2 separate regions of the Homo sapiens genome follow, and region 2 is linked to region 1. Evidence: fine-mapped expression QTL. Tissue or cell type: sun-exposed skin. Region 1 holds a variant in brackets; the other region holds the start of a gene. All regions are shown on one strand. Distances are from middle to middle.

Region 1 (2,845 bases):
ATGCAAAAGTGAGCTTTCACGCAGGTCAGCTGCACCTTTCACGTAGGTGCGCCAAGGTGGCAGTGAGCAGTGTGGCCGGGGTGGGGGCCGGCCTAACCAGTGTCTCCGTGTTCCCTTGCCATCCCGTGCCCAACAGCAGGAGCTCATCGAGAGCATCAGCCGCAAGCTGCAGGTGCTCCGGGAGGCCCGCGAGAGCCTGCTGGAGGACGTGCAGGCCAACACCGTGCTGGGGGCCGAGGTGGAGGCCATCGTGAAAGGCGTCTGCAAGCCCAGCGAGTTTGACAAGTTCCGGATGTTCATTGGAGACCTGGACAAAGTGGTGAACCTCCTGCTGTCGCTGTCAGGCCGCCTGGCCCGGGTGGAGAATGCCCTCAATAATTTGGACGACGGCGCTTCTCCCGGTGATCGGGTAAATGCAGATACGTCTGACTTGGAAATGGGGGGTGGTCTCGTGGGAAGGCTGTTTTTCAAGTGTCGTGAAAGTCAGCTCCTTGGAGCCTAGCATAGCTTCCACATGGCCTGTCCACCTCCTCCTGCAGACCTTGTCGAGACAGTGCACGCTCTATACCCTCTCCTTCCTTTTATATTTCTTTAGTTGTTTGTTTGTTTGTTTGTTTGTTTGAGACAGGGTCTCATTCTGTTGCCCAGGCTGGAGTGCAGTGGTGCGATCTCGGCTCACTGCAGCCTCTGCCTCCCGAGGTTCAAGAGATTCTCCCACCTCAGCTTCCCGGGTAGCTGAGCTCCCAGGTGCATGCCACCATGCCTGGCTAATTTTTGTATTTTTTTGGTAGAGATGGGATTTCACTATGTTGGCCAGGCTGGTCTGGAACTCCTGAGCTCAAGTGATCCGCCTACCTCAGCCTCCCAAAGTGCTGGGATTACAGGTGTGAGCAACTGTGCCTGGCCTCCTTCCTTTTAATTGAGGGGAAAAGGTGCTTATCAGATGCAGGGAGTTGAACCGTCATTGGACTGCAGGGTTGCGGGATCTTCTCAAAGAACTGTTACCTCTTTTTAACATCTTTTTAGATATTCCTATTGACTCTTACTGATAATTGTCTCTTCTTAGAAAAATCATGTTGTTGTTGTTTTTACTTTTCTTTTACCATGTATAAGTCCGTAACAGACATGCCTGCCTGCTGACGATCGTAAGTACTCAATGATAGCTATTTTCTTGTGGTGGTTGTAGCTGTGATTTAACAAGAGGGCATGTATCAGTCTAGAAGGAAGCAGACAGTGCATCTAACTTCAAGGCGTTTCTCAGTGGGTCTGTCTTTTCGTCCTTTCACATATGAACCAAGAGAAATAATAGCTGCCTCGTTGGCTTTTACCTCATAGGCCAAATATCAGTAAAACAGCTAGTTTTGTTTGCACAGAACAGGCCTTCAGAATGTTCATCTGTATCATGAATAAAACATCTTAACCTCTCTCAGAAGGGGAGCAGAAGAAGCACCCTTCCCCTTTCTCCAGGTGAGGGTGATTTGGGCCACGCAGAACGCTGTCCTGGCGCTGGGCTTGGAGACGGTGCCCTTCTGCACTCAGCCGAGTGCTTAGTAACTGTGTCGTGGAACTAGCTAGGTCAGGGTGGCACCGTGCCCGAGGGGGCTGCTGGCCGACACCCGTGCACAGCACTGCGTCTTCTCCACCCTCAGGCTTCCTTGTGTGCAGATATGCTCTGCAGGCTCGGGGGCTTCTCCTCCTCCTGCCAGGAGCATTTAGTAAGCCTACCCTGAATTCCTCTCGAGTCCACCCATGTGGCCAGCTGTCCCACGGTGTTCCCATGGAGCGGACCTTGAC[G/T]CCAAGAGGGCCCCGCAGTCCTTTGCCCTTTGCAGCATCTCAGAATTCTGTCGTTGTGAGTCCCTTGGTGACTCTTCTGCTCACCATTCGAGGCAGGTGGGAGAGAGTCAGGCTCAGACAGCAAGAGGAAACCCAGAGAGGCCTGTGGGCGGCTTCTGGGGGCCTCAGGCTGGCCCGCTGCAACCATGAGACACATGCCCCCAGGCCCTGGGCCCTGGGTTTGTCTGTGTGGACCCCATCGGATCTCTGGTGGCATCAGGGTTTCCATCGATAAGTTGTGGGACCAGCCCACAAGTTGCCAGTGTCTTCAAGGGTTGGCCAGTGCCCCAGCTTTCATCCTGGTCCTCAACAGGCTTGTTTGTCTGTCAACAGCAATCACTGCTTGAGAAGCAGAGAGTCCTGATCCAGCAGCACGAGGACGCCAAGGAGCTCAAGGAGAACCTGGACCGCCGCGAGCGCATCGTCTTTGACATTTTGGCCAACTATCTGAGCGAGGAGAGCCTCGCGGACTATGAGCACTTCGTGAAGATGAAGTCGGCCCTCATCATCGAGCAGCGGGAGCTGGAAGATAAAATCCACCTTGGTGAAGAGCAGCTGAAGTGCTTATTGGACAGCCTTCAGCCCGAAAGGGGCAAATAAGAGACCAGTCCCCGGTGGAGGAGGGGCACGGGGCCTCCGAGCTCCAGCTCCGTTCCCAAGGATACTCGTGAAGACCCCATCTGTGTTCATGGCCTGGAAAGAGACTTCTCCCATAGCAAAGAGGCTGTTATAAAAGCAATAACTTTTGTGTTTGTGTGGGATGATTTATTTAATTTTTTAGTTTCCCCTTTGATTGCTGAGAGCCATTTTCCTTTACACATAACTACACCTGACACCAGGCTCTGCTGGATGTGAGTTTCCACTGCATGGGCTGTGGGCTGGGCCTGTGGTGCCTGCCGAGTGGTCACTGTCAGTGGGAAACCCGTTGTTCCTCCCGTCTTCAGATGCTGAGCCAACTGCTTGGACAGCAGCCAGCGCGTCATGACGTGCATGAGAGGGGGACCCTGGTGCT
Region 2 (2,916 bases), 22 kb after region 1:
GTGTGACCCTTCACAATCCAAATAGCTTAGAAAAAACTCAGAATCTCTCAAACCCAGTTAAAAATGTCTCCTAATAGCTTAGGATGTAGATTTTCAGTTCGATTTGTATCTATGATTATATCGTACATATTATTTTGAAACATGTAATTTGTATTTGAAATATTACGGACACCTCCCTTTTGGTCACACAGAATGTCAACTAGAATGGCTGTCATGAAAAACATTAAAAATACCAAATGTTGGAGAAAATATGAAGAAACTGGAACCTCCATCATTGCTGGTGGGAATATAAAATGGTGCAGCCACGTGGGAAAACAGTTGAGCAATTTACAAAAAGTTAAATGCGCACTTAACATATGAACCACCAATTTCACTCCTAGGCATCTACACCAGATAAACAAGGACATATGCCCATACAAACTTTTATATTCAAGTGTTCATGACAGCATAGTTTATAATGGCCAAAACATGGCACCAAACCAAATGTCCAAAAGCTGATGAATGAACAAACTGTGGTCTACCCACACAATGGAACACCATTCAGCAATGAAAAGGGACAACCTTCTCATACCTGCTGCAACATGGATGACCCTTGGAAACGTGCCATGTGAAAAGAGCCACACAAAACTCTTATACCTTGTATGATTCCATTTGTATTGTCAATGTTGGCGTATAGCTCCATCGCGTGGACATAGCATAAATTCCTTCACCAAGCCCTGTTGTTGGACTTGACGTTGTTCCCCGGTTTCCAATATTACAAGCAATGCTGTGAGGACCATCTTTGTGGCTACATATTTGTGGCCGACCTTATTCATGTCTTTGCACCAATGCCCAGAAGTGGAACTGCCAGTCTGAAGGTGTGTGCATTTTAAAGCTTTCGGGAAATATCGCGGAGCGGCCCTGCACAAAGTTTGCTCAGACTGCACTCCCACCAGCAGATCTAGAGGGTCTAGTGTCTCCTTTCTCCAATACAACACCTCCCTCTTGGCGCTACTCACCCATGGGAGGCTGTCCCAGGTCCCAGGGTCCCCCCGCTCACCATGCTCTGTATTTGTTTGTAGTTTCCTGGGTGCGCTGCCACCATGGTCTGGTTCTGCAACAGTGCCGACTGCCAATTTTCAGTCTTCGCCCTTACCACCATAGGATGGATCCTCTCCTCTACGTCCACGGGCCTCGTGGAGTGGCGAATATGGTACATGAAAGACACCTCGCTCTACCCCCCTGGAATCGCCTGCGTGGGAATATTTAGAGTCTGCATTTACCGGCGTCGCACCAACAGCACCACAACCAAATTTTGTTACCGATACAGCTACCAGGACACCTTTCTCCCTTTTGAAATTTCCATGGCTCAACGCTTCCTACTGACTGCCAGCATTTTCGGATTCTTCGGGAGAGCCTTTAACATGTTTGCACTTAGAAACATGTCCATGAGAATGTTTGAGGAGGACACCTACAATTCATTCGTTGTTTCAGGAATTCTCAACATTGCTGCTGGTGTCTTTAACTTAATTGCTGTGCTCCAGAACTACGATGCCGTCATAAACTCACAGGGGATCACCTTCCTGCCATCTCTCCAAATGCCCTTCAAGCCAGATGTGCAGGAAGTTGGCACTGCCATTCAAGTGGCAGGGATAGGTGTCTTGCCGATGCTGTTAACTGGGATGTTTTCTCTGTTTTACAAATGTCCCCCGTACGGCCAAGTGCATCCTGGTATTTCAGAAATGTGAATTTCCTGGTTGCATTGGCTTTGCAAATCTAAGATTTCTGGGAGTTTATGGAAAATGTTATTAGCATGCTCTACCAAATATTTCCAACGACTCAAGACCGTGGCATGGGTAGTTTGGGACAGAAGGTGGCCAACTGCCTCCTTCTGTTATCTTGTGTATCTGAATGTGGCTCACTGATTTGTTGGTTGAATTGAGAACTTTTATTTAAAAGTCTTCCCACCTGCCAGTTGGTCTTATTGCATCTGAATTTTAATTATTGTTGGCTACAGCAAATAATCAACCCTGTAAACTAAGAGTAGGGAAATAAGAGTTTCTGAGTACATTAACTTCTCACATTTCCCTCTTAAACTTTTGCTACAAACAATCATAGGCCAGGCATGGTGACTTACGCCTGTAATCCCAGCACTTTGGGAGGCCGAAGTGGGAGGATCACTTGAGGCCAGGAGTTCAAGACCAGCCTGGGCAGCATAGCAAGACCTGGTCTCTACAAGAAAAAAAAAAAATAGCTGGGTGTGGTGGTGCGTGGCTGTGATTCTAGTTACTTGGGAGGCTGAAGTGCGAGGATCACTTGAGCCCAGGAGTTGGAAGCTCCAGTGAGACGTGATGGCACCACTGCACTCCAGCCTGGGCCATATAACAAGACCCTGACTCTTTAAAAAAACTCCAATAAACAAAAAACCAAGAATGGACCTTATTTTCTATGTCATGGTAATAACATCTCCCTACCATATAAAGTTTTCTAAAATGTGCAAAAGTAGAGAGGATAGCATAAGGAATCTCCACACACCCATTGCCAGACTCCACAGTTACTGAGATTAGGGCACTTCTGCTTTCTCTTTCCATTCTTTTACCTTTCTAATCTATGTTTCTTTTTCCCAAGTTTTTTTTTTTTTTTGAGACAGAGTCTTGCTCTGTCGCCTGGACTTGAGTGCGGTGGCGTGATTTTAGCTCACTGCAACCTCTGCCTCCCAGGTTCAAGCGATTCTCCTGCCTCAGCCTCCCGAACAGCTGGGATTACAGGCACCTGCCACCATGCCTGGCTAATTTTTGTATTTTTAAAAATATTGGGGTTTTACCATGTTGGCCAGGCTGGTCTCAAACTCCTGGCCTCAAGTGATCCGCCTGCGTCGGCCTCCCAAAGTGCTGAGATTACAGGTGTGAGCCACTGCACCCGGCCTCTTTTTCCTAA

Direction of the effects. Alleles are on the strand shown, and positions count from the first base shown. SD is a standard deviation of normalised expression in the study named.
With allele T in place of G in region 1, the expression in sun-exposed skin of the gene that starts at base 1,083 in region 2 is lower (small effect, 0.31 SD a copy in GTEx).

Evidence for each region. PIP is the estimated chance that this variant, and not a neighbour inherited with it, causes the effect.
Region 2: it holds the start of CLDN34, and the variant in region 1 is the best candidate, but not a certain one, in a credible set for the expression of CLDN34 in sun-exposed skin (GTEx, PIP 0.71).

What each region holds. Positions count from the first base shown.
Region 1 is chrX:9,944,505-9,947,349 of GRCh38, forward strand. SHROOM2 (shroom family member 2) reads left to right here. Exons shown (of 10, transcript NM_001649.4): 9 at 137-409; 10 at 2,167-2,845. The coding sequence ends at 2,433. Among named protein-coding and RNA genes, the nearest start is that of CLDN34, 21 kb to the right of the region's middle. The variant G/T (reference allele first, on the strand shown) is at 1,795.
Region 2 is chrX:9,966,276-9,969,191 of GRCh38, forward strand. It overlaps CLDN34 (claudin 34), which reads left to right and starts at 1,083. Exons shown (of 1, transcript NM_001195081.2): 1 at 1,083-2,077. The coding sequence starts at 1,083. The coding sequence ends at 1,727.